Homo sapiens: one gene and its partners. The protein of the gene in region 3 interacts with the protein of the main gene of each other region in a pairwise test. Each region holds a gene or a part of one and is shown on either strand. Other genes may lie near its edges.

The links.
Region 1: the proteins of NR4A1 (region 3) and LONRF1 interact in binary tests that used the Homo sapiens proteins (3 or more experiments, as listed by UniProt).
Region 2: the proteins of NR4A1 (region 3) and PRMT1 interact in binary tests that used the Homo sapiens proteins (3 or more experiments, as listed by UniProt).
Region 4: the proteins of NR4A1 (region 3) and IFI27 interact in binary tests that used the Homo sapiens proteins (3 or more experiments, as listed by UniProt).

What each region holds. Positions count from the first base shown.
Region 1 is NC_000008.11:12,752,495-12,760,074, reverse strand, and holds the start of LONRF1 (LON peptidase N-terminal domain and RING finger protein 1), read left to right. Parts: upstream 1-4,548; 5' UTR 4,549-4,654; coding exon 4,655-5,375; intron 5,376-5,626; exon of another isoform or gene 5,627-6,134; coding exon of another isoform or gene 6,135-6,162; intron 6,163-7,580.
Region 2 is NC_000019.10:49,672,420-49,680,270, reverse strand, and holds the start of PRMT1 (protein arginine N-methyltransferase 1), read right to left. Parts: upstream 3,001-7,851; 5' UTR 2,991-3,000; coding exon 2,955-2,990; intron 402-2,954; exon of another isoform or gene 400-401; coding exon 346-399; exon of another isoform or gene 342-345; intron 132-341; exon of another isoform or gene 36-131; coding exon of another isoform or gene 18-35; intron 1-17. Other genes in the region: BCL2L12 (bcl-2-like protein 12), read right to left, coding at 6,523-6,573. UniProt on the Homo sapiens protein: Arginine methyltransferase that methylates (mono and asymmetric dimethylation) the guanidino nitrogens of arginyl residues present in proteins such as ESR1, histone H2, H3 and H4, FMR1, ILF3, HNRNPA1, HNRNPD, NFATC2IP, SUPT5H, TAF15, EWS, HABP4, SERBP1, RBM15, FOXO1, CHTOP, MAP3K5/ASK1, MICU1 and NPRL2.
Region 3 is NC_000012.12:52,054,432-52,060,025, forward strand, and holds the end of NR4A1 (nuclear receptor subfamily 4immunitygroup A member 1), read left to right. Parts: coding exon 1-773; intron 774-1,598; coding exon 1,599-1,728; intron 1,729-2,062; coding exon 2,063-2,214; intron 2,215-2,625; coding exon 2,626-2,828; intron 2,829-2,920; coding exon 2,921-3,099; intron 3,100-4,256; coding exon 4,257-4,513; 3' UTR 4,514-5,072; downstream 5,073-5,594. UniProt on the Homo sapiens protein: Orphan nuclear receptor. Binds the NGFI-B response element (NBRE) 5'-AAAGGTCA-3'. Binds 9-cis-retinoic acid outside of its ligand-binding (NR LBD) domain.
Region 4 is NC_000014.9:94,106,897-94,113,735, forward strand, and holds the start of IFI27 (interferon alpha-inducible protein 27, mitochondrial), read left to right. Parts: upstream 1-3,901; intron 3,902-3,918; exon of another isoform or gene 3,919-4,082; intron 4,083-4,728; 5' UTR 4,729-4,786; coding exon 4,787-4,877; intron 4,878-6,839. UniProt on the Homo sapiens protein: Probable adapter protein involved in different biological processes. Part of the signaling pathways that lead to apoptosis.

The DNA of each region.
Region 1 (7,580 bases), on a different chromosome or scaffold from region 3:
TGCCCCACCAGATTTTTATCACTAACAAGAATGAAAAATAGTACATGATATCTTTGTGGGTGGACTCATTTAAGAATGATTTTCTAGTGTCTTCTTGGTGCCTAGGTGCTAGAGACATGACAGTGAACAAGATGTACAGAAATCCCAAATCTCAAGGAGCTTACATTCTGGAGGGTGGAGACAAGTAATATGTATGTAATACGTCAGATGATAAGTACTAAAGGTGGGGGGGTGTGCGGTGGGGGGGCAGCAAGGAAGGAGGATGGAAAGTACCAGGGGGATTCATATGTATTAAATTCTTAGAATTTGTTAAATAATATATGGGGTTTATTCCTATGTCTACTTTTTAAACAGCTTGATACAGGAAAATGTATTCATTTAATCAATTTGACTACCAGCAAAATAGGCCATGGGTCACACACTTAGTATTTCTAGATTCTTCAGAGTATTAGAAATGAAGAATGAAGCATAGCACCCTTTGTAAGGGTAGTGGCCCTTGCGCACTTTGTGCACCCTGTAGGGATAACAAAGAATGAGCAGTAAATGGTACTTGGTTAGATGGTAGTCCTTGCAGGCAATTGGCTTTAGACTTACACTTCGTATCAGCTCTATTTAACCTACTCAGGTTGTCCTCATTAGGGCTTTTCATTTGGAACGCTATTATAGCAATCATATATGGTATTTTTAGCATCTTATATAAACTTTCGCACAAATGCCCAAGTTATATAATCAGCTCTCCCTCGGCCCCCCCACCCCCGGCTTTCTTTCAGCTTCCCACAGTTTTACAGTAGGGGCAAGGAGGTGTGAGTGCAATAGGGGATCCCTGTACAGTGACTGCAGGTGTTCAGGTCTCAGAAACTGGTTCCCCCTCTCTAAACAGGGATGAGTATGTACCAACAAAATGTGTTCTTGATACCCTTCTCTTCTATTCTCAGCCCTCATCTGCTGTTACATTTTCAGCAGGTATCACATTGCTGTGTTCCTCAGTCTGGGAGATGCTCTGCCTCCTCTTACTGTGTTCAAACCAAGCCCTGGGGCTTGGCTCCAGAGGCAGAAGGCACCTTAGAGGTAGTTGCAGTTCCCTCTTTCTACAGATAGCAAATGAGGCCTAGGGAACCCAGGTGACTTCTTCCCTGGCATAGAGGCATAAATAGAGTCAGCACCAGGTGTCTGGATTCCCTCGCTGGTATGACTTCTATGAAACTAGCAGCTTCTCAGATCCCAATTTTCTTATATATATATATATATATATATATATATATATATATAGAGAGAGAGAGAGAGAGAGAGAGAGAGAGAGAGAGAGGGGTATGAAAAGGTGGTCTCTAGAGACCCCTCCATCTGTGTATTCTGTACAAAAATGCTATTGGGGACCAGGCGTGGTGGTTTATGCCTCTAATCCCAGCCCATTAGGAGGTTGAGGCAGGGGAATTGCTTGAGGCCCGGAGTTTGAGACCAGCCTGGGCAACATAATGGGGCCCGCCTCTACAACAAGTTAAAAAAAAAAAAAATTGCTGAGCAGAGAGGCATGCGTCTGTAGTCCCAGCTACTCGGAGAGGCTGAGGTGGGAGATTGCTTGAGCCCAGGAGGTCAAGGCTGCAGTGAGCTATATACTCACTATGCACTGCAGCCTGGGTGACAAAGTTAGATTGTGTCAAAAAAAAAAAATCTATTGGCTAGGTACTGTTTATATAAAACGTTATAGTTTACTCTCTTTGAATAGAACATTATCAACTGAAATGAATCAGGAATGGGACATATTTTGCTTGGACTGACAAATTCAGTTTCTTTTTTAATAAGAATGTAAAGAAACAAATGGTAAATTCACCCACAGCAAAAAAAAAAAAAAAAAAAAAAAAAAAAGAGGTTCAAATACACATCTTCAGCTGAGTTGTATATAAGAAAAGCACTGTGTTATGTTACTCTTAAATAGGAGTTTACCAAACTATATCAGGAAAAGTCTTATGGTGTGGCAGTGGGAGGCAGGGATAAGCAGGCAATGATGGTGATAAGCATTTTCCAAATTAGGAAACAGATACGCTTTTCTTCTGACTCTCTTACATAACTGATCTATTTTAGAAGACAACACTCAAAAACCGAAACAGAATACAAATCTCATGATTTTACTACTTTGTTAGCAAAGAATGACACGAGCAAGTAATGCGGAAGGAAAAGGAGAGCTCTTCACTCCATTATACTTCTCCTAGCCAGGGGCAGCTTAGCAGGATTCCCTCTTCTCCATCACAGCCTGCTGGGTGACTCAGAGACCTGTCTAAATTTTAGGAAATGAACGAAGAAGGACACTAATTTTTCTCGCCTTTGAATTTAAACAAGCAGTCACATTATTGTGCAACTTTTGGATGGCAGAGAATGATGGAAGGGTGACCTGTGACAGTGCCAGTGACTGCTTTGCCTAGACTTCCTGATTCAAAGGGAAGTTATGCAGCACACAAAGGCCACAGCGGCAGTACAGCCTCTTACATAAATAAGTTACATAAATGAGAACAAGTTATGTAAATGCATAAACCAGCAAACATGAATTATAACCATTCACAAATGCCAAGGAGAACACGGTAAGATTCCTCCTACGGTCCCATTTTTTTCTCCCGCACATTATCATAATTGTGCCATTTTATTTCACATCAGAATCAGATGTGGTTGTCATATTTATTAGGAAAAGGAACTCCAAAGGACAAATAATACTTCACATTATTTTCTGAACCACATATTGTACTTTTGGCAGAAATCCCATAATAGAACCTGACTTTATATTTGAAAAGAAGTTTATGAGTGTTTATTAATTTACTATGCTCCTTGTAATAAACATGAACACATTGATTACATATTTACTGTTGTAAATTTTGCAACATGCCATTAAGAACAAGGATGCGTTACAAAAATGAATGTGCGTGTACACATGGATATTTGTTTGTGATTTCAAGTCTCAAGGGAGTATGTGGACATCAGCTGAAAGTCACTGTTCTGCTTGTTAAGGTAGTAATTTAGGGGTTAGGATTGGATTTAAGGTTATGCTCATGACTTAATCCCAATGCTTCCCATGCCAAATGCTTAGGAGGTGCTCCTTGGATCTAGCTGCAATTTGCTTCAGGTGCAATGTGAGTGATAAATGAACTTGTTTCTGTCTGCATCCTGTTGGAACAGGAGGCTTGGCTTTTTCTCAGGCACCTCTTTTTTATTCATTCCCTTTAGGGTAATATAACTCTGTCTTTTCTGACGTTACACGACTTGTTGATTGTGTAGTGAAAACACATGAACTCAAAACATTTTTTAGCCTTAATTGCCTGTTCCTTATAAAGAGAAATATTAAACGTTTACCAATTTCATACATAGCATGCTCAGGTGAACTTTCCAATTAGCAACTTCTTTTACTTTGAAAATCTCATATATTTCTATGAAATATTACATATTTTATTAAATATTACATATTAGTCTAACGTAGTAGTAGTGGAATAGACGTGATCTTAAAATCTGTATTAGCTGTGTGATTTTTGACAAATAACTTTCCCTGTGTTTCCAATCATTTGAAAAAGGACTAAAAGTCCTAAGTGACTTCCAACATTAGCGATCTAATACCCTATCATCAAATCTGTATTTTCAGCTGAGAGCTTTAAACTTGCTGCTGTGAAGTTTAAGGGAAATAGCACCCATTATATATCAACCCGATCATTTTCTTCTGTCAGCAAAACTGCAGAGCCAGCTTGGGTTGTAGTAATACGGTGACCGCCATGTGAAACATGTTTCTTGGTGTTTTCTTTTAAAACTGCCAAATATAGACCTTAACCAGCTGTAAGGCAGTGCTTGAGGTGTGGAGACACCTGAGGAAGCTGTGGGCTTTCTCCCTCGAGGTGGGCCCACGATGAGTTTTAAGCAAGACGGGCAAGCAGTCACCTGGCACCAGGAAAAACTCCTTGCCCTCTGGAGGGAGTCGCCCCAGGAACGTGGGTTTTTTGTTCATATTTAAAGTTGAGTCCTCTAGAACCGAAGAGTCCCAGTCATCTGCCGAAGGTGCGCTCCCAGGCCCCCTGCTTGGGCGCGCCCACCTGGAACATGGGCGTAGAGCTATGAAAATGCAGACCCGCACAAGCGCGAGGCCACGCGGGGAGACCCCCGCCCGCCAGGAGTTGGGGCAGGTCCGGCCTGGGCGGGGGCGTCGGGGGAGGGGTGGTGACCCGGAGTCCCGCGCGGCAGGGGAGCGTCCCCCAACCCCCGGCAGGGGCGAGGGCCACCGCAGGTGGCGGCGTTGGCAGACAGGCAAGCGGGGACTGAAGCTCCGGGGTCCTTCCGGCTTTGTTCCGTCACGAGCCGAGCCCTCCTTTCCGGAGAAGCCAATTAGATCTCCGACGGAGGAATCATCCGACCTGCGTCCCCCACCCGGAGGGGGCTCGGAAGGGGCGGGGCCCAGCGCTTGGCTCCTCGGGAGCGCGGCCGCGGGCGGCGTGGGGGAGTCCCGGGCGCCGTCGCCGAGCCCGGCCCCGCCCTCGCCAGGCCCCGCCCTCGGGGCTTCCCGGGCGCGCGCAGCCCCGCCGTGTCCGCGCGCCACGCCCCCCTGCTCGCGGGCCGCGTGCGGAGCCGCGCGCCCGGGAGGCTCCGGGACCGTGGCGGCGGGCGGCGGCGGCGCAGCCCTCCGCGGGCCATGTCCTCTCCGGCGGTGGCGAGGACCTCCCCAGGAGGGAGTCGGGAGATGGCCCCAGCGCCGCAGGGCCGAGGCCGGTTCTGGGAAGTGGGCGGCGGCAGCGGCCATCGGCTGGAGCGCGCGGCCGCGGAGTCGGAGCGCTGGGAGCTGCTGCTCCGCCGCGGGGAGCTGCTGGCGCTGGGCGGCCACCTGAAGGGCGCGCTGGAGGCGTTCGCGGCGGCGCTGCGCCGCGGGGCCCCGGCCAGGCCCGAGTGCCTGGGCGCCCTGGTGGACTGCCTGGTGTTCAACTACCGGCTCCGCCACGGGCTGGGCTGGAGCGCGGCCCCGGTTGCAGGCGCTGACGGCGGCGCCGGCGGGCTCCTCAGATGCCTGGGCTGCCGGGGCTTCCTGAGCGAGCCGGTGACCGTGCCCTGTGGCCACAGCTACTGCCGCCGCTGCCTGCGGAGGGAACTCCGCGCCCGCTGCCGCCTCTGCCGGGACCGGCTGCCGCCCGCCACCGCCAGTGCCACTGATGCTGAAGGGACCGCCCCGCGGCCGCCGCCTCTGGCCGCCGCCATCGCCGCTTCAGACTTCAGAACCAGCGTCGTCCTCAACCACCTGGCCGAGAAGTGGTTTCCGGGCCAGCGCGAGCGGGCCCGGGCGGCCGGCAGGCTCGGGGAGCTACTGCACCAGGGGCGCTACCGGGAGGCCCTGGCCGCCGCCTGCGAGGCGCTGCGAGCAGGTGACCGCGCGGGGATGCGGCGGGGCCGGGCCGACCGCACCCTCCTGGCCCCGAGGGCCGGGGACCCGGAGCTTGTCTGCGCCCCGAGAGTCTCCTCTGCTTCCCCGGGGCCGCTGGGCCGCTGGCGTGTCGGGTCTCGGGGTGCTGGGGGGTGTGGGAGGGGGCGGCGCCCCGGGGTGCTTCGGTCATAATGGGGATCGCCCTGGGAGCCGACTGTGACGCGGCGCGGGGAGGGGCGCTCGGCGCGGGGTTCCCTCGGCCGCGGCCTGGCTGTCGGGCGCGCGCTCCCGGCGCGGAGTGGGTGACCTGGACCGAGGCCGCCCCGGCGCGGGATGGGTGGTAGCTGGGCTATCCCGAGCGGCCGCTCGCTTCCTGCCGCGCGCTTTCCGGGAATTGGCTCTCGGGCCGGGCCCGCCGCGGGGAAACGACTGCCGGGGCGGGGAGAGAATCCCCCGCGAGGGCAACTAGGCCGGGCAGGCGGCGTCTCCCTTCCTCACCCACAAAAGTCACCGGGACAATTGGGAACCGCGGGAGGGCAGAATTGCATAAGCTGGGGGCGGGGGGCGTTGTGTAACGGGTGACGTCCGGTGGGCGTGGCGGGAGCTCCGCGCGGGCGCCCGGCCCCGGGAGGCCCTGCAGGCCGCCGGGCTTGGGGCTTGGGGCGGAGCTGCCCAGGGTGGTCCCTTGCTACCTGGAAATGCCTGAACTGGTTCCTCTTGAAAGTTTCAGCTGGCCTGTTTCAGATCCTGCTTATTTCCTATGTACTTTGCAGTGCACCTAGCTTATGGTAAAGATGAGAGGGGCTGCCTGATCCATAGTTCTCTGCCACGCTTCTCCTGGCCTTTCCACTTAGGATCAGGCTGTGGGGAAAGGCCTTATAGGTCTTGAGTGCATTTCTTAGTCTCCAAGAAGCAGCCTCGGCCTCCTAACCTAGGTTAGCACTTTCTTCTTAAGGTGGTTTTAGGCGCTGAAAGGGGGCAGTTTCAAGCTTCTCTTACGTAAAAGGAAGAGTTGTTCTATATAAATCAGTAGTTCTCTACCAGGGGGATTTTATCTCCCCTCTCTCAGGGGGCATTATTTAGAACAATATCTGGAGAGATTTTTGGTTGCCACCTCTTGTGGGGGTGGTGCTGGTACCGACATCTAGTGGGAGAGGCTGGGGTGCTGCTCAGACATCCTACTAGGCACAGCAGGATTCCCACAACAAAGAATTATCAGGCCCCAAGTGCCACTGTTGATAAACCTTGTGTTACGCGTATTTCAAGATCTTAGTGTCTATCCATTGGCATGAAATGATAGGGGAATAATCCCCAAGAAAACAGACATCTAGAATAGCAACTGACTTTAGGTATTACAGGTAAATTTATAGACTGTGTAACTGAAAGGATCATCTTTCGGGTCATCTTTTGTCCCAAGTGCTTAGTCATATTGAACTAATGTCAAGATCTTGTGTTGTTTAGTATCTTTAGAGTTCGAAGCACAAACCCCGGAGATTTTTGTATTCTTTCAGTGCCTTCGTGAGGAGTAGGCAGGTATAAAATAGAAAGGTAGGCTCAGAACAAAAAAAAAGTATTTGGAATACAGAATTCTGATACACATGACTCTGCTTCTCTGGGTGAATAAAGAGAAGAGAAACTGGACTCAGTTGTACAGACCACCTAGTAACTGACCATGGTGTGATTTTTAAAGCGAGGAAGCAGATGCCAGGCAGTGAAGACTTGCACACCGTCACACTGTTAACTGGTAGAGAGGCAGTGCTGTATCTTCCGCTTCTCCTAAACGTTGGTCTAGGGTTCATCCTGCCTTATAGCACATGTTTAGTATACATATCCAAGGAAGTTTTTTTGGTCACTGAGGCTGAACCTTATGGACAGTACTGCTGATTTAGTGATCTGACCTTGAATTAGGGGTTTCACAAGAATCCAGGTCCTGGTCCATGGAAGAACAGTGAGCACTTTTGATAATTGAGGTCTAGCTTAACATTCTGTGACCAATAATATTTTAGTTAACAGAGATTCTGGTTCTTGGATCGAGGATATTATGTTTAACAGGAAAAGGCTCTGAAAGATGTAATCTCTCTTTTTTTCAAGTTGCATAGATTGCACATGAGGATTTTGCCCACTTAGCAACTTCATTCTACTTTTGCAGGAATAGAACCCAAGTCTTCTGACTTTCACTGCATTAGCTTATTTTTTCCTCATTTTT
Region 2 (7,851 bases), on a different chromosome or scaffold from region 3:
GGGGAGCACCCCGATACCTCAGCCACGCCTACCATCTCTCCAGTCTCTCTGACCCCGTCTCTAGCTCAGCCCACAGCTGGGGAGGGGAGGGGAAGGAAAATGGGGGCAGACACAGGGAAGGGCAAAGGGGGGTTGGAGGTGGAGTTAAGGAAGTAGCGGCGATACTGGGGGAGGCCAGCGGGGGCTGTGAACCTGGAGGGGTTGCTACTAAGTGTCTGGGGGCCTGGGGTAAACTGGTTTGAAGCAAGAGGGGTATGGTTAGACCTCAAGAAAGGGCCAGATGTGTGGCAAGATATATTGATGTGGAGGTCAGGGTGGGGAGGGGTCTCACAAAAGGATATTTACTTCTTCAAGAGGCGGCTGGAGGCTCATCCCATTAGCCAAGGTGGCTACAAAATTCTAGGAGAGAGTAACAGGGAAAAAGGATTAGCTACTGGGAGTGGCTGTGGGAGGGCTGGGTGGCGGAACCTGGGCTCTGGCCGGGGGGTGGGTTTCCAGCAATTCTCCTTCTTGGTGGGGAGTGGTGGCGAAGGGGGCAAGTAATGAGGTGGGGTGTTTAAGAAAGGGTGGGAAAAGTGAGGGGAGAAGAAAGGGGGGTCTCCTATCCCAGCTGTGGCTGGAGAGATGGTGGCCCACCCCCACGCTGCCCCTCTCTGGCCAGGCAGCTGACCACACACCTCCCCCATCCAGGCCAGGGGAATTGGCACCCACCACCGCCAGCTGTCGCTCCCTCTCATCACCTAATCTCCTCCAGATTAGGTGACACTTCCTGACACACACACCCCTATCCTAGGGTGCCATGAATAGCAGAAGGGAGCGGGGCTGGCAGGATATGCCCACAGGGCATCTGCCACCTCTGCAAACCAGTCTCATGTCTGAGAGGATTCCAGAATAGAGGTGTGGCACACGGGTACTTCCCCAGAGCTAGTACCCCAGACCCCAGCTCCTGCCTTGGACTCAGGAGCCCCAAACAAAACCAGCTGGAACCAACCCCCTCCCTTATGACCCTCTGCCCACGAAGGTAGGGTCCCAGGGAAGATGGGCAGCTCCTGGACCCTCTAAGAATGAGAGGACTCCAGAAAGTGGCTTGGGGGCACGGTGGCTCACACCTGCAATCCCGGCACTTTGGGAGGCCGAGGCAGGTGGGTCACCTGAGGTCAGGAGTTTGAGACCAGCCTGACCAACATGGTGAAACCCTATCTCTACTAAAAATACAAAAATTAGCTGGGCCTGGTGGCGGGTGCCTGTAATCCCAGCTACTCAGGAGGCTGAAGCAGGAGAATCGCTTGAACCCGGGAGGCGGAGGTTGCAATGAGCCGAGATCAAGCCATTGCACTCCAGCCTGGGTGACAGAGTAAGACTCCGTCTCAAAAAAAAAAAAAAAAAAAGTGGCTTGGGGAGTCAGGCCATCGCCCCCATTCAGACACCCATCCCAGGCCCTGAAGACTTCCAGGTGCGGCCAAGCCTGAGGCCACCTCTGGGAAAGTTATTTCCTCCATCCATAGAGCCCCAGGTGCAGGAGACAGCCAAGAGGGTGGGAAGTCATTACAGTGACCCCTGGGAGCTGCATCCTGACAGCTGAGAGCTGACCTGCCCCTCCAGCCAATGCCATAGGTAAGGGGTGGAAGGACAGAGGCCCCATCAGATTACATCTCTTCCAGATGTGACCACTATCCAAGTCTCCAAGAAGGGCCACGTCACAGGCCATGACCTACTAGGCTCCAAGCACCCTCCCTCCAGCTCTCCCAAGCTAGCGGGGATGCCTATAAGAAGAAAGGTGCTGAGGGGGTTTCCCACTCGGGCCTATTTCTCAATACCACTGAAAACTACCGCCAGACAACCCCAGCCCCAGAGGGCTTGAAACGCAAGACTGAAACCTCCCCCACATGGCTGCACGAGAACCAAACCTCACTCGAAACCATTTCAGGCACCCACTCTCAGGACCCCAGGGCTCAGGACCCTGCACAGGGCTTCAGGAAGAAGGAGGTCATCTCGCACCCTCACAAAGACCCGGGGGAGATAAACGGCTCCAGTAGGGTAAAGCTCTCAGCCTACATATTTCCCACAACTCCTTCCCAGCGGACATACCCTCCTCCCTCCGCCCGCCAGGAAGAAATCCGAGGGGAGGTGGGCTTCAGGACACGCCCCATGAAAAAGATGTCCCTCCCACACACCCAGAAATGGCCACAAGGGGGTGCACGGCGCCTATTAATGGGAAAATCTCTATCTAGATGCCCCACCACCACCCAGAGGGAGGTCACAGGGGCATGCCCCATCCCCCAACTCCTAAAGCCCTGGGCGAGGGGGAGAATTCTGGGAGGGGAAACGGGGTCGGCGGGGGACCCCATTCTTGGTTTTCCTCCAGTCCCTAACCCAGAACGCACAAAACCGGGTCCGATATCCCAACAGATGCCCCCGGAGCTCGGAAGGAGGTTGGTAAAGGGCTGAGAAGCACTGCTCCTCCCAAGAGACTCCCCACATCGTGGAGGGCCCCAGGTCGATCACACCCCACGGCGTGTGCCCAGGTCCCCGGGGAGGAGGGCTGGGGGCGTCAGGAGGGTCGGACCCCCTCCCCGCCCCCCTGGGCGCCCCTCCCCGGCCGGGGGCGGGGCCTTTGTCCCGCACGTGGAGCCCGCCGGGCCACTGGACTCGGCACACCCCCTCCCCACCCACCGCGCAGCGGCCACGTGGGGGCCTGGCCGGAAGCGCCCCCAGCCCTCCTCCACGTGGGAGGGGGGATAAGACCCTCCGCTAGGCCGGATGCCGAAGGCCCTTGGAAGCTAGGGAGCCGTCACCTCAAACGATATCCCCGGATGTGGAACGTGCGGCGCCCCCGTGTGCGGCGGGGGACCTCCAACCCCATATCGCCAACTTAGAGCCCTTTCCCCACCACAGAGGCGTGAAACACCGACCCAAAGCCGCCTCCCGCCCACGGCGGCGCTCCAAGCGCTCACCTCCATGATGCAGTTCGCGGCCTCGGCTGCCGCCATCTTCACCCGCACCTACTCCTCCTCCGGCCGCCAAGACCCCCCCTTTCTCCTCACTCCCCCGGGACCGCCTTATACCAGAGGGTCCACGGCCCGCCTACCGCGACCCCGCTGGAAGATTTCATTGGCAATGGAGGCGGCCCGTCTGAGAATACCGTCTAGTAATTGGCTAGAGAATACGTCCATCATAGGTCAGGGGTTTGCCAACTCTGGCGTCCAGAATCCCGCCCCCTCAAGTCGACCCGGGATGGGGAAAACTGCCCGTCTATTGCAAGAAGCGCGACTGGTGATTGGGCAAAATCCACCAGGAATGCCCTCCCCTTTACACCCAGCACCGCCTCAAAGCTTCCCGGGGAGCCCCGCGCTAAAGGGGCGTCTTGAAACACCTGTCCATCACCAAAACGACCCGCCTCCTAATCGCTGCCATTGGTTTATCCGGAAGCGACGTCACGCAGCCTTTGGCCCACCCTCGCCAAGCGGCCGGCCTCAAGGAGAACACGGCAATTGGCCCACGGGTAGGGAAGAAGGCGGGGCTTCAGGCACCAACGATTGGCTCAAAGGAATTATCACTCCTCGTCCACTCGGTGGATCCTCCCAACCCGGGGGGAGTCTGGAGGAAAAAGGGAGCTTGTGCTCATTACCTGGGGGAAAAACGGAATCGGTGAGAGGCCCAGAGAGAGGAAGGGCATAGCTGGGGTCCCGAAGCAAGTGAGGAATAGGAGTCCGTCGTCAACACATTAAATCCCTAGCCCTTGACATAATCATTCCAAGTTTTTTAAAACCATCAACCCCTCTCAAGCCACTTGGTTTTTGCCAAGTCCCTCCCCCTGCCAGGAACGCCCACCTCTCTTTGTCTGGTCAGCTTCTAAACGTGAATCAGAGCACAGCTTAGGCACCACTTCCTCCGGGAAGCTTTCCTTGATTTGCAGAAAAAGTTCCTAGTTGAATGAAGCTGAATGCAAAGGGCCGAATGCGTGGGTCCTGCCCCTCCTCTCCCCGATCCCTCTACTTCCCTCTGCTCACACTTCTCTCCAATCCCGGAATGAGCTCGCTCTTTGGTTTCTGGGCCTCCGCGCAGGCTATACTCTCTGGCGTGCCGCTGGCAAACGCCTGAGACTTAAAATTTACAATAGGGTTCGGGCGCGATGGCTCACGGGTGTAATTCCAGCACTTTAGGAGGCGGAGGCAGGCGGATCACTTGACATCAGGAGTTCGAGACCAGTCTGGGCAACATGGTGAAACCCCCATTTCTATTAAAAATACAAAAATTACGCCAGGCGGCCGGGCGCGGTGGCTCACGCCTGTAATCCCAGCATTTTGGGAGACCGAGGCGGGCGGATCACAAGGTCAGGAGGTCGAGACCATCCTGGCTAACATGGTGAAACCCCCGTCTCTACTAAAAATACAAAAAATTAGCCGGGCGTGGAGGCTTAGGCAGGAGGATGGCGTGAACCCGGGAGGCGGAGCTTGCAGTGAGCTGAGATCGCGCCACTGCACTCCAGCCTGGGTGACAGAGCGAGACTCTTGTCTCAAAAAAAAAAAAAAAAAAAATTTGGCCGGGCGCGGTGACTCACGCCTGTAATCCCAGCATTTTGGAAGGCTGAGGTGGGCGGATCACAAGCTCAGGAGTTCGAGACCAGCCTAGCCAATATGGTGAAACCCCCGTCTCTACTAAAAAAACAAAAATTAGCCGGGTGTGGTGGTGGGCGCCTGTAGTCCCAGCTGCTCCAGAGGCTGAGGCAGGAGAATCACGTGAACCCGGGAGGCAGAGGTTGCAGTGAGCTGAGATGGTGCCACTGCACTCCAGCCTAGGCGACACAGCGAGACTCCATCTCAAAAAATAATAAAATAAATAAAAATAAAAATAAAAAAATTAGCCAGGACTGGTGGCACACGCCTGTAATCCCAGCTACTTGGGAGGCTGAGGCAGGAGAATCGCTTGAGCTCAGGAGGTGGAGGTTGCAGTGAGCCAGGATGAAGCCATTGCACTCCAGCTCGAGCGACAGACCGAGACTCTAACTTTAAAAAAAAAAAAAAAAATTGAAAAGCATGGCACTAAACAAACCAAGAAAAGGACATTTGTTTCCAGTGTTTGAGCTGAAGCAAGAGGAGCCCAGCTGCAAATATGCACATCAGGTCTTTAGCTTGTTGCAGCTCTGTGCATAAGCATTGCCCTCCAAAACACCACAAAAGCACTGCCTTAATTTTTGGGGTATGAATACATTGTAGCAAGGATGCAAATTTGCAAATAATCTACAAATACTGAGGATCAACTGTAATTGGTTCGGTTTGTAATCCTGTACATTTCACTTATTAATTTACAAACATTACTCTGTGAAGGGGGATATGGCCCTATAAAGGAGACAAACCGCCCAGGCACAGTGACTCATGCCTGTGATCCCAGGACTTTGGGATGCCAAGGTAGGAGGATCACTTGAGCCCAGGAGGTGGAGACCAGCCTGGGCAACATAAGGGAGACCCCATTTCTACAATTTTTTTTTTTTTGAGACGGAGTCTCGCTCTGTTGCCCAGGCTGGAGTGCAGTGGCGTGATCTCAACTCACTGCAACCTCTTGCCTCCCGGGTTCAAGCGAGTCTCGTGCCTCAGCCACCCAAGTAGCTGGGATTACAGGCACCCACCACCATGCCCGGCTAATTTTTGTATTTTTAGTAGAGATGGGGTTTCACCATGTTGGCCTGGCTGGTCTTGAACTCCTGACCTCAAGTGATCCACCTGCCTTGGCCTCCCATAAAAATTCTTTTTTAAAAATTAGCTAGGCGTCGTGTCGCATGCCTTTAGTTCCAGCTACTAGAGAGGCTGAAGTGGGAGGATCACTTGAGCCCAGGAGGTTGAGGCTGCAGTGAGCCATGATAGTGCCACTGTATCTATATAACAGTGCAAGTATAGGCAACAGAGCAAGACCCTATCTCCAAAAAAAAAGGGAGAGTGGGGGGTGTGTGTGAGACAAACCACTGGTCTGTAGGTAGATGAGAAACCAGCAAGAGAGACTTGAAAGGAGCAATGGGAGGAGAAAAACAAGAAGAGGGTGGTGTCCTAGACACAGGTGAAGTTAGACTGTACCTTTCTGTGGAATTCACTGGAAAGACTCCATGACCATCATACAGCATTAGCTAGAATAACCAGATCGTGCAATAGGAAAAAAAAATGCAAGTTGCTGGAATATTTACAGGTATTCTCTCAAATATGTTACATGTCCAGGAGACAGGCTCTTGTAGGTGCTGCAAATAAATATTTCTAGAATGAATGAACTGGTTCTTTCCTCAATTTGCGTAAGCCACAGAAATCTCTGAACCAAATCTCCTCTCCTTAAAACTTTAGTTCCCAAGTGTAAGAACAGACAATTGAATACTTTGTAACGTTTTTAATAAGAAAAGTTTTAAACAATTTATTTTTGGCAAAAACAGGTAGGGCAACCACCACCCCACAGCCCTGAGTGGAATAGGAAGACTTGGAAAAGCACACGAAGAGGGCAGGGACATGAGGTGTCATCTTGTAGCAGCTTCTGAGAAAGAGCTCAGTCCAATGGCAAGTTCAAGTCCACGGGTGAAACAGCCAGGATGCCCTCCTGGAAGGGAAAAGTGGCAGAGCCCTGTGAGCAGGGCAGGTGTTCCCCCCATACAGCAGCGTCCACATCAGCCCTGTGAGATTAGAGACGGGAAGGCGAGGAACCAGAGAGCGGAGGGTGACAGACACCCAGACAAGGGGACAGAGACCCAGACAGAAGGGCACAGGGATGAGGGGGCAGGGTCCTAGCAGGAGGAGGAAAGGTTGAGCTCGAGGAGGGTCAGGACACTGGAGTGGGATTAGACAGAGATCCAGAGAGAGTGAAGAGTTGGGGGACAGAGTCAGAGATGGGGAAGAGAGTCTTGGGATTTGAACAATTCAGAGTCGTGGCTTTGTGTACAAATCCAGATTCCAACACTCTGCATGCTGGGGACTTTTCCTCTCTGCCCCCACAAGACGAGGACAATAAGAGCCCCATGAGGTTGTAGTGGGTTTAAATGGGATCATTCCATTGAAATCCCTAGCAGAGGACCTGGCCCACCGAGAAAACTCATCTGCTATCAATCCTACTTTAAAAAAATTTTTTAAGAAATTGTCCAGGCGTGGTAGCTCAGCCTGTAATTCCAGCACTTTGGGAGGCCGAGGTGGGTGGATCACTTGAGGCCAAGAGTTCGAGACCAGCCTGGCCAACAGGGCAAAACCCCGTCTCTGCTAAAACTACAAAATTAGCCGGACATGGTGGTGTGCGCCTGTAACCCCAGCTACTCAGGAGGCTGAGGCAGGGAATCGCTTGAACCCAGGAGGTGGAGGTTGCAGTGAGCCAAGGTCGTGCCACTGCACTCCAGTCTGGGCAATAGAGTGAGACTCCATCTGAAAAATTAAAATAAAATAAAATAAACGAGCTTCTTTGCTGAGCCCAACACTTATATCCATTCCCCTCAACATGTGCTATGAGTTCTGATCTTACTGTAGACCGGACCACCTCCAGTCCTGCTCCCCACCCCCATCGCCCCCATCCCCACACCTTCCCCATCTCGGGGAACTTAAGATGTCGCCCTGCAGCTGCTCGGGCCAGCATCCTTTAGTCTGTCCCCACATCTGGCCCATTAGCCAAATCTGTCAGCTTCACCGCTAAGTTAAATCCAGCATTCTCCACCGCCCCCGACTTGGGTGAGATCCACTCACCTCCTCCCTGTGCCCCTACTTCTGCCCTCGCCCCCAGCAGTCTGTCCCCAGGCAGCCGCCAGAGGGCGCCCATTAGCGCCTAAATCAGCGCCTGTCCCTCCGCTGCTCAGAGACCTTGGCTTACCCAGAGTCAAAGTCCGAGTTGTCACTCACC
Region 3 (5,594 bases):
TGGACCTGGCCAGCCCCGAGGCAGCCCCCGCTGCCCCCACTGCCCTGCCCAGCTTCAGCACCTTCATGGACGGCTACACAGGAGAGTTTGACACCTTCCTCTACCAGCTGCCAGGAACAGTCCAGCCATGCTCCTCAGCCTCCTCCTCGGCCTCCTCCACATCCTCGTCCTCAGCCACCTCCCCTGCCTCTGCCTCCTTCAAGTTCGAGGACTTCCAGGTGTACGGCTGCTACCCCGGCCCCCTGAGCGGCCCAGTGGATGAGGCCCTGTCCTCCAGTGGCTCTGACTACTATGGCAGCCCCTGCTCGGCCCCGTCGCCCTCCACGCCCAGCTTCCAGCCGCCCCAGCTCTCTCCCTGGGATGGCTCCTTCGGCCACTTCTCGCCCAGCCAGACTTACGAAGGCCTGCGGGCATGGACAGAGCAGCTGCCCAAAGCCTCTGGGCCCCCACAGCCTCCAGCCTTCTTTTCCTTCAGTCCTCCCACCGGCCCCAGCCCCAGCCTGGCCCAGAGCCCCCTGAAGTTGTTCCCCTCACAGGCCACCCACCAGCTGGGGGAGGGAGAGAGCTATTCCATGCCTACGGCCTTCCCAGGTTTGGCACCCACTTCTCCACACCTTGAGGGCTCGGGGATACTGGATACACCCGTGACCTCAACCAAGGCCCGGAGCGGGGCCCCAGGTGGAAGTGAAGGCCGCTGTGCTGTGTGTGGGGACAACGCTTCATGCCAGCATTATGGTGTCCGCACATGTGAGGGCTGCAAGGGCTTCTTCAAGGTACCGCGCAGCCCCAGGTGGGGCCTTTTGTTGGAAATGGAGAGAGGCTGGCCTCATCCCATTGGGACCTGTGGTCTCCCCCTGGGTTCTCCTCCTAGCTAAGTCCTGTCCTGCAGGGTGGGATCAGCCCTGCCAGGTGGGCCGCCTTCCTGGAGACCCGTAGATGCCAGGGCTGGAAGCTTTCATTTGCCGGGACACTCGGGCCCATGGGATTGCACAGAGCTGGAGGGAGGGGTGAGATAGGGGCAGATAGGAGCTGCAGGGGTGCCTGGCGAGCCTCTGGTTTTCCTCTGCTCCTCTGCCTGTCCTCTCCCAACTCAAGGTTCTAGTGGGAAGGGGTGCCCCCAGGCTCTCATGTTCCTGGCGTGAGATGAAAGGATCCCTGCGGAGGGTTTGGTTCTTGAGGGCTGGGGGTGGACTTGGGAACAGGCTGTGTGTTTGTCCCAGCGATGGTGCCTGCTTAGCTTCCCGTCCCCACCCCCCAGCCCCTTGGCCCTCTCCTGTCTGCCCTAGGGAGAAGGCAGGTGGACAAGGGCCCATGAAAAAATACAGGTGTCTAGACTGCCAGGGAGACCCTGGCCCCCAGTAGTGTGTCCTGGGGACTTCCTCAGAGCGAGAAACCTCCCCCAATGTCTTCAAGACTTTTCTCTCCCCCCGCCCAACCCCGTCTCTCCCTCCCTTGCCACCCAAATGTTAGAAAAATAGCTGTGAACAGAGAGCGCTTTTGTCTGCAATGGCAGCAGGATCTGGACGGTCCCCTCCCCTAAGTTCCCCCCTCCCCACCCCACACTCTGACAGCTTGTTCCGTGTTGCCCCCCCACCCAGCGCACAGTGCAGAAAAACGCCAAGTACATCTGCCTGGCTAACAAGGACTGCCCTGTGGACAAGAGGCGGCGAAACCGCTGCCAGTTCTGCCGCTTCCAGAAGTGCCTGGCGGTGGGCATGGTGAAGGAAGGTGTGTGGCTGGGGTGCGGCCCAGCGGGGCAAGGGTAGGCTTGAGTGGAGTGGGACCAGCAGGGCCCCCAGGCTTCTGCCCTGGAGGACCCAGAGGAGGGCACGTCTTATTTCCACCCCACCTCTGAACCCCAGGCCTTGGAGGGAGGCAGCCTACACCTGCCTGGATTGTGAGGGTGGTGGCAGGGGGAGGTTCCTATAGGGTACCTTGGATCTCAGGGACTCTGGGTCCTAGGGACTCGGTGGGGCGCGTCTCAGCAGTGGTGTGCACGGCTTGGGCTGAGAGGCCCTTCCTCAGATCCCTTCCTTCCTCACCCCTACCCATTCCTTTGCAGTTGTCCGAACAGACAGCCTGAAGGGGCGGCGGGGCCGGCTACCTTCAAAACCCAAGCAGCCCCCAGATGCCTCCCCTGCCAATCTCCTCACTTCCCTGGTCCGTGCACACCTGGACTCAGGGCCCAGCACTGCCAAACTGGACTACTCCAAGGTGAGGTCCCACCCCGTGTCTGCCTTGGGGAGGTCTATGAGCACATGCAGTGCCTTTGTGCGTGTTAGGAGAGCTACCCCCTCTGGAAGGACTGAATGAGAAAGGAGGTTTAAAAAAGAAAGAAAGAAAAGCGACTCCCTCCAGTTCGACAGATCAAAGAGAGGATCCCCCTCTCGGCTGACCAGATGGGAAAATGCACCCCCTCAGGCAGGTGGCCAATTAGAAAAATATGTCCTTTTGGCAGCTGCAGCCCTGGGTTAATATGTGAGACTTGGCAAGTGAGAGCCTGGGCAGGATCTCAGATCCACTCCCACTCCCGGGATCTGGCATCCAAGTGTCTGACACAGCCATACGTGGCAGTGGGTGTAGGAGCCTGCCTGGGGTGCTGACCCCACTGGACCGTCTTCCTAGTTCCAGGAGCTGGTGCTGCCCCACTTTGGGAAGGAAGATGCTGGGGATGTACAGCAGTTCTACGACCTGCTCTCCGGTTCTCTGGAGGTCATCCGCAAGTGGGCGGAGAAGATCCCTGGCTTTGCTGAGCTGTCACCGGCTGACCAGGACCTGTTGCTGGAGTCGGCCTTCCTGGAGCTCTTCATCCTCCGCCTGGCGTACAGGTGAGAGCCACTGACTGTCTGCCCAGCCCCTTTCCCTGATACACCTGCCTGTGAACCACCCTGATCGCTCTTCGTGCCCATCTGCCTGCCAGGTCTAAGCCAGGCGAGGGCAAGCTCATCTTCTGCTCAGGCCTGGTGCTACACCGGCTGCAGTGTGCCCGTGGCTTCGGGGACTGGATTGACAGTATCCTGGCCTTCTCAAGGTCCCTGCACAGCTTGCTTGTCGATGTCCCTGCCTTCGCCTGCCTCTCTGCCCTTGTCCTCATCACCGGTGAGTGACCAGCACCACACCAGGTCCAAGGGAATGGGCGTCAGGGGGTTGACTGGTTCTCAGGAGGGCACTGTCCCAGGGAGTTTGGTGGGCCGGGATCTAGCACTTTCTGGGCCCCTGCACTGCCCCGGGCTCATGCCAGCAGTAAAGTAGGGACCATAGGAATTGCAGATGGGCTCAGCTGCATCCAGCTCTAAAGCGCAAGACAGCCTTTGGTCCCAGACTGTCAGGATCCAGACTGCAGGTGTCATGTATGTGGCCTAGGGTATTGGCTTGTTTTTAAAACCTTCCTGTCAATTATGCTGCATATAGAAAAGTACACAAATGGTAAATTTTCATAAACCGCACTTACCCAACCAGCGCCTTGGTCAAGAAAGAGCACATAACTGCCCCCCAGAACCCATTATTGTGCCCCCTTCCAGTCATTTGCCCTCCCCAAGGGTAACCACTACTTTTTATTTAAATATTTTAAAAATAAGATGGGAATCTCACTATGTTGCCCGAGCTGGTCTCGAACTCCTGGGCTCAAATGATCCTCCTGTCTCAGCCTCCTAAAGTGCTGGGATTACAGGTGTGAGCCACCACGCCTAGCCCTTCACTGTGACTTCTGACAGTGCAGATCAGATTGGTTGTGCCTGTTTTGGACTTTATGTAAATGTAGTTCTGCAGGATGGAATCTGGTGTTGAATGCAGAGGTTTTCAGATTTCTCTGTTTTTTAAAGGAAAGAATCCACCCTCGTTCATTTTTTCACTTAAATTGCACAGGGGACCCAACGATATAGAACACAATCAGAGGTACTCTGGGCTGAGGGAGTGCTGAGTTCTGAGGCTGGGTTTCTCAGAACAGTCTAGATTTTAAAAACCCAATGATCTAGCCAGAAAACGTAGGTTAGGATTTTATTTCCCGTTTGTGACCCTGGGCAAGTCATTAGCCTCCTGGGCCTCGGGTTCTCACTTGGAGTATGAGGATAATGAGGGTTACTGCTTCTCAGACTTGTGACGATGCTTACTAATGGCCAACATGTGAATGCGCTTTTGTGAAGTGCCAGCAGAGCATGAGGGGTGGTCAGGGGCAGCAGTTTTAGGGGCCTGGGGGAGGCTGGGGCTTTGGGGGCCTGGTTCTCAGATGTACAGCTAATCCTGTACCCTTCCCGCAGACCGGCATGGGCTGCAGGAGCCGCGGCGGGTGGAGGAGCTGCAGAACCGCATCGCCAGCTGCCTGAAGGAGCACGTGGCAGCTGTGGCGGGCGAGCCCCAGCCAGCCAGCTGCCTGTCACGTCTGTTGGGCAAACTGCCCGAGCTGCGGACCCTGTGCACCCAGGGCCTGCAGCGCATCTTCTACCTCAAGCTGGAGGACTTGGTGCCCCCTCCACCCATCATTGACAAGATCTTCATGGACACGCTGCCCTTCTGACCCCTGCCTGGGAACACGTGTGCACATGCGCACTCTCATATGCCACCCCATGTGCCTTTAGTCCACGGACCCCCAGAGCACCCCCAAGCCTGGGCTTGAGCTGCAGAATGACTCCACCTTCTCACCTGCTCCAGGAGGTTTGCAGGGAGCTCAAGCCCTTGGGGAGGGGGATGCCTTCATGGGGGTGACCCCACGATTTGTCTTATCCCCCCCAGCCTGGCCCCGGCCTTTATGTTTTTTGTAAGATAAACCGTTTTTAACACATAGCGCCGTGCTGTAAATAAGCCCAGTGCTGCTGTAAATACAGGAAGAAAGAGCTTGAGGTGGGAGCGGGGCTGGGAGGAAGGGATGGGCCCCGCCTTCCTGGGCAGCCTTTCCAGCCTCCTGCTGGCTCTCTCTTCCTACCCTCCTTCCACATGTACATAAACTGTCACTCTAGGAAGAAGACAAATGACAGATTCTGACATTTATATTTGTGTATTTTCCTGGATTTATAGTATGTGACTTTTCTGATTAATATATTTAATATATTGAATAAAAAATAGACATGTAGTTGGAACTGAGATTCAGTCTGTCTCTGATGCCCCCTCCCCACTCCCCCACCAGACACACCCCATCATTACATAAGAGATGGGCTGCTCAAGATGAAACTTGGATGTTACCAGCCTGAGCTGTCAGGCCTCAGTGTACTCATTTGTAAAAGGCGGATAATAATGACACCTGCTTCACGAGGTTGTTATGCAAAGCACTTAGACTAATTTCTAACACGTGGGAAGCCTGCATTAGCTGTGCCTGGCTAGCTGTGCCTGGCTCATTGCTGGGGTCTGCAGTGGCTGACTAGCCCAGGGGTCACTGCAGGGCCCTAGCAATAGACTTAGCCGCAGATCTCAGGGTTGTCATGTTTCCTAAACTGGACATATATTCTCTGATTCTTGATTTCCACATCCATAAAACAAGAATAGACCCAGCCTCACAGAGCTTTTACGGTCAGAGGAGTGTGTGTGTAATGCTTAGCATGGGCTGGGTTTAAGTAAGCCCAAATTGGTAGTAGCTGTTACATTCAGGGTTTTAACATCCCCAT
Region 4 (6,839 bases), on a different chromosome or scaffold from region 3:
TGCCAAGCACCCCCATGACCGAAACACCCCCGACTAGGCCTCATCTCCAACATTGGAGGTTACATTTTAGCACGAGATTTGGAGGGGGCAAATATTTAAACTATAGCATATATCATCTTTGGTGAAATGTCCATTTAAGTCTTTTGCCCATTTTATTTATATATATCATTTATTATTATTATTATTATTTCAGATGGTGTTTCACTCTTCTTGCCCAGGCTGGAGTGCAATGGCACAATCTCGGTTCACTTCAACCTCTGCCTCCCGGGTTCAAGCAATTCTCCTGCTTCAGCCTCCCAAGTAGCTGGGATTACAGGCACACACCACCACGCCTTGCTAATCTTTTGTAGTTTTAATAGAGACAGGGTTTCACCATGTCGGTCAGGCTGGTCTTGAACTCCTGACCTCAGGTGATCTGCCTGCCTCGGCTTCCCAAAGTAGTGGGATTACAGGCGTGAGCCACCACTCCCACTTTTGCTCATTTTAAAATTGGGTTATTCGATTTTTTGTTGTTGAGTTGTAGCATTTTTTGGTATACTCTGAATGTTTACTCTTCATTGCCAAGTTTGATGTCATGAATAATTTCCCCTATGTTTTCTTCTAGGAGTTTCATAGTTTTGTGGCTCGCATTTGGGCAATTAGTTCTCCATGCCCTTTTAAAGTTATTTCTGTGGATAGATGATAGAAGAGATATATAGGTATCTCCATAGAAAATATTTGTATATAGTTCTGTTATATGCATTTTTATTGCTATGGTTTTGTTTAACCTAATACATACTATTCTGATGCTGGCTTTTTTTTACATTTTATAAGTCTTTTTCATTATTTTTAATTGCTGCTTAGTATTCTACGGTAATGATCCACCACATTTTATTTTGTCTTTTCCCTTTTAAAGGTACTTGTGTCGCTGGTTGTTAAAGGAACATTTCCTACTTTGGAGGAATTTCTTTTTTTTAATTATACTTTTAAGTTCTAGGGTACATGTGCACAACGTGCAGGTTTGTTACATAGGTATACATGTGCTACGTTGGTTTGCTGCACCCATCAACTCGTCATTTACATTAGGTATTTCTCCTAATGCTCTCCCTCACCCAGCCCCCTTCCCCCAACAGGCCAAGTGTGTGATGTTCCCCTCCCTGTGTCCATGTGTTCTCATTGTTCAACTCCCACTTATGAGTAAGAACATGTGGTGTTTGATTTTCTGTACTTGTGATATTTTGCTGAGAATGATGGTTTCCAGCTTCATTCATGTCCCTCCAAAGGACATGAACTCATCTTTTTTTATGGCTGCATAGTATTCCATGGTATATATGTGCCACATTTTCTTTATCCAGTCTATTATTGATGGACATTTGGGTTGGTTCCAAGTCTTTGCTATTGTGAATAGTGCCGCAATAAACATACGTGTGCACGTGTCTTTATAGTAGCCATTCTAACAGGCGTGAGATGGTATCTCATTGTGGTCTTGATTTGCATTACTATTTACTATTGAAATTGTGTAGAACTGCTGGACAAAAACTGTGTCCATATGCTGGCCGTGTATTGTTCCATCCAGAAGTGATTTGAGCCTCAGCATTAGGGTGACCCCAACCCAGCCTTTGGTTAGGACATGGAGCCTGATGATGTCACATACATACATTCATACATTCATTGTGCTAATTTGCAAAGTCTCTGGTACTGATGTAGTAGCTGCACAGGGGCGTGTGGATTTCTGAATATACTGCCTCCCCGGGGGCCCTTCCCAGAGAGAAAGCCAGAGTGGACACCTGCTGGACCCCTGAATAGGAGTATAGATCGCCATCAGTGTGGCTTAAACTAGTTGAACCAACATATTGATGTCACACTTGTGTCAACATAAAAAAAAAAAAAGAGAGAGAGGGAGACAAATCTTTAAGTAAAATCGTTTTACTTGGGAATAATACAAAAGAAGTAGGATTGCAATCCCACAACATAAATATGGACCAGGGTGGCCTTTTTGTTTTGGAGAACAAAGGAAAAAGCTGGGGATTTTTAGAGAAAGAGGCTGTTATGCAAGTTGTTCTGAAGGAAAGTTCAATGCAATTTGTTTTATGAAAGTTATGCAAGTTGTTTTGAAAGAAAGTTTAATGGCTGTGATCCCACAGCCGAAAGCTCACACCTGTAATCCCAGCAATTTGGGAGGCTGAGGCAGGAGGATCACCTGACATCAGGAGTTTGAGACCAGCCGGGCCAACATGGTGAAACCCCATCTCTACTAAAAATACAAAAAATTAGCCGGGCATGGTGGCAGTTGCCTTTAATCCCAGCTACTTGGGAGGCTGAGGCAGGAGAATCACTTGAATCACTCCACCGGGAGGTGGAGGTTGCAGTGAGCCGAGATTGCGCCATTGCCCTCCAGCCTGGGCAACAAGAGCAAAACTCCATAAAAAAAAAAAAGAAAGGAAAGGGAGGGGAGGGGAGGGGAGGGCAGGGAAGGGCAGGGAAGGGCAGAGAAGGGCAGGGAAGGGCAAGGGCAAGGGCAAGGGCAAGGGAAAGGAAAGGAAAGGAAAGGAAAGGAAGAAAAAAAGTTTATTGGTGGTGGCAGCATCTTACAAGACCTGGCGAGTTCTGACCGCCAAGTGTCAGTAGTTGCTAGGTAGGACTGGGAATCTTGGAGTTATGGTCAGGTTCCTGCAGTTTTGGATTGGGTTTGTGAGACACTGTGCCAGGCAAGTGTTTTTGCATAACTGGCTCGCTCTCCCTGTGCTTCTAGCTGTCCTTGTGTGGCCCATGTGATAAGCTGCAGTTTGGAAACATTTCTTGTGATAGTTCCTGTTAGCAGGCAAACGGGAGAGCCTCATCTTGCGTGAGAGCCCTCCCATTAAAGCCTTGCTGGCTCTGTCTGCTGAGGTTTTACCCAAGTGACTCCATTTTGAATCTTACAACTCGCACACTACTCATGTGGAAGATTTAAATGTACATTCCAGGACCTGGTGCTTTCTCTTCCGCCTGTTCTCAAAGCAGCTGCAGGGTGAGCCTGACTGTGTCATTTCTCAGCTTCATCTCCCTTTCCCCAAAAAGGTATAGATGATAATCCCCTGCAATGGCTTCAGGACACAAGATCAAGTCCTTGCAGTGCTTTTGTGGCCTCACAGGGCCTGGATCCCTGTTAAACTCTGAGTTCACCTCCTGCCTCTCTCCCCTGCCCACCTGCTGAGGCCACACTGGCCCCCTTGCTGCTCCTGCCACACGGGCTCTGCCACTGCTGTGGCCTCCACCTGGAATGACTGCCCCCCCATAATTCTGCCTAGGTCACTGCTTCACCTCCTTTTGCTTTAGCGCTTCATCAAATAACATTCTATACATTTAGTTATTTATTATGTTTAGTTTGCCCCCATTGCTGGTAAACTCTGTGAGGATGGATATTTTGGTCTGTTTTGTTTACAGTCCTGTCCCAGTGCCTAGTCAGTATCTAGCACAGTGGGCCTTCAGTTGAGACTTTTTTTGAAAAACGGAACATCTGCCTATCGCAAGGACTACTATTATTCTGAAAATCACCTTCTTCATTAGAAAGTAATATTTATCATTTTATTATAGAACTTTGATCTTACTTCTTGTGACTTCATTCTGCGTAGAGCACACTCCCATCCTTGAATTAAATGACAAAGCATTTTATATTAACTGACAATGACTGATGCCATGGGCAAATCCTATTTCTGTAAATAACTGAATTTTCTTCTGGACTGCGCATGAGGGGAGAAAGATGTCTGCAGTTTCGGTTTCCTGGAAAATGAAACCTATCTCATTTGTTGCCTGTGTCAAGGGGCAGTGCTTCAGTCGGGGTGGAGCTGCTTAAAAGGCCTGGGATCACACCCTTTGGGAACACATCCAAGCTTAAGACGGTGAGGTCAGCTTCACATTCTCAGGAACTCTCCTTCTTTGGGTAAGACTGGGAGGGTGGGCAGGAGCTACCCTTCCCGTGGCCCCGGACCTTGGGTGGGCTGTGGGCTCAGGGAGCGGAGGGGAGGCCTTAAGCATCCACTCTCTGCCCGGTGTTTTTGTTCTCATCAGGGAGCCTCAGATGGGAAGGGACTCGAGCCCCACCTGTCCCTGGACTCTGGAATGTAAGGACAATTAGCTTTGTCCTTGCCCAGGTTTTCCTCAGGCCTTGAGGGCGGCTTGGGGTAAAGTGGGCAAGGGGAAGAGATAAGTGTTAGGAGGAACCAAGTCGAAGCCATTGCAAGTCCATGCCTGGGCGGGGTGTTGCTTCCCTATGGAAAGCTTCTGACCTGGAGCAAATCACTGAGCCAGATCGCGCTCCCTCATCTGTAACATGCGGAGGAGGAGGGTCCCATCTTTTTCACGTTAGTGAGGAGATTACATAAGAGCAGGCACCTCGCCTGCTGTATATGCCTTAAAAATGCGATTGGTTCTGATTTCTTAGTTTTGGTGCTTTTTCAATTGCTCCGTGGAGAGATAAGGGAGTCCCGGAAGTGTCTAAGACATTGGCGCTGGGACTTTCAGGAGAAAGAAAGCAGCCCCCCTGGGGAAATAAAGTCCCTCAGGGCCCTGACCTAACACAGGTCCTTTGGTAGCCCCAACTCCCCAACATCCCTCCCTCCCTCACCCCAGGATCCTTTCAAGGCCTGCTGCTCCACAAGCTCAGAGCAGCCTCCCTAGCCCCCTGGAGCCCGTCACATTTTTCAGGACAGTGGGAAGCAAGTCAGGTTGTGTGCCCATCCCGTCCTCAGAGCTCCATCCCTTCGGCAGGTCTGGCTGAAGTTGAGGATCTCTTACTCTCTAGGCCACGGAATTAACCCGAGCAGGCATGGAGGCCTCTGCTCTCACCTCATCAGCAGTGACCAGTGTGGCCAAAGTGGTCAGGGTGGCCTCTGGCTCTGCCGTAGTTTTGCCCCTGGGTGAGTGTTCCTGGGAGGGGCTGGTGCTGGGGGCGAGGAGGCGGCTGGGAAGGGCGGGGGTCCTGTCCCGGGACCCGTGGGAGAGAAAATGGGGGACACCCGCAGCCTTGCTGCCCTGTCCTGTCTTCTCACAGCAGGCGTCCACCCTAACTTTCCATCTGGGAGGGGGCCCGGGGCAGGCAGACTCTGGCCAGATGCCCAGCCCTGGGTGTTCCACAGGTCCTCTCCCCTCTGGGCCCGGGCCTCCTCCTGCCTAGCCGGAAAGGGTCTATCTACCACTGAGTCCCACTCTCTTCAGCTCTCCCTTCCCCCAGATTCACCATCAGAATTCATCTCCTTTAGGAGTTTACCTTGTCAATAGGGCCCCGTGTCCTATGGGATCTCACATCCAGAGTATCGATTTTAACAAAATTCTTCAGCTCACTTTTTTCATTAGTTTCTGGGAGATCTCTTTCTGGTTTTATTTATTCTCATTTTCTTCCTTTTCACCCTCGATTCCCCTCCCTCAAAGTCAACCTTTCTAATATATTTAATGTGTGTCTGTTTTTCATATGTATTTTTGCAGAATGGGTATTGTGTTTTGTTTGCGGGCATTTTAACTGACATGCAGGATGGTGTGCTGTAGATCCCATTCTATTGCTTTTTTCCACACTGAGAACCATATTCTTGAGATCCATCAGTGTCATTCGATGAGCATCTAATCCTGGCTTCTACCTGCTGACAAGTGCTCCTCTGTGTGTATCCCCTGCCCTTTACCTTTCTGTCTCCGTGGGTGGACATCCAGGGGTTCCCCCAACTCCGCCAGCACAAATGGCACAGGCTTGAATGGGGGCACAGGGCCCCTGACTCCGACCCTGACTTCTGACCCCTGCCCCAACCTCTAACCTCTGTTTGAGCCTGCACTCACCCTTTGCTGACCCTGTCATCCTCAGCTGCCCTGAGCCCCAACATCTCTCTCCTCAGACCCTTGCTGGGGGCACTGGAGGCTAGCTCCTTCATGCTGGGGTCCCTCACTGGCACCCTGTTTTGCAACTTGGAGGTAACTGGCCCTCGGCAACACACACCACTCTGGGCTCCCAACTCAGTACAGAGAAGTGTGATGAGCAAGCAAGGGCCTGGGCCACGCCCAGCAGTCCTTTCTGTTTGTCAGAAATGCAGATGACTTCTCAGTTTAAGATCAAGCAATTCATAAAATTAAAATAATAACAGCTCAACTTAAGCAAGCGCTTTTATGTTCTAGTCACTTACCCTAGCACTTGAGGTTTGTCAATTTAATTCTCATAACAACCCCAGAGGAAGATAAGAAGATAATATCGTCCCTTATTTACCAACTGGGACAATTTACTGTTGTCCAAGTGCTCTGGGCAGGACAGAAGGGTGTGGGTGTGCTGCTTCCAGGCTTGGAACAGGAGGTAGAACAATGAACAATGACAGAAAGTATTAATAGGCCAGGCACGGTGGCTCACACCTGCAATCCCGGCACTTTGGGAGGCCAAGAAGGGCGGATCACTCGAGGTCAGGAGTTTGAGACCAGCCTGGCCACCACGGTAAAACCCTGTCTCTACCAAAAATACAAATATTAGCTAGGCATGGTGGTGCATGCCTGTAATCCCAGCTACTTGGGAAGCTGAGTCAGAAGAATCACTTGAATCCAGGAGGCAGAGGTTGCAGTGAGCCGAGATTGTGCCACTGCACTCCAGGCTGGGTGACAGAGCTAAGATTCTGTCTCAAAAAAAAAGAAAGAAATATTAATAGAAGTAGGAAAAGGTTGGAGGGAGGTCTCAGGGTAGGGCAGGTTCTGAATGGCACGAAATAATGGCCAGGCTACTCCGCCGTATGAATGCCCATCAGCTGAGCCTAACAGGCAGGCCTCCAGACACACCGCAGCCAGTTCCTGAGGGCTTTTGTGTGTCAGGGTGCAGGTCTGCTGGGCTGCCAGCCAACTTGACATCACCTCTCTTG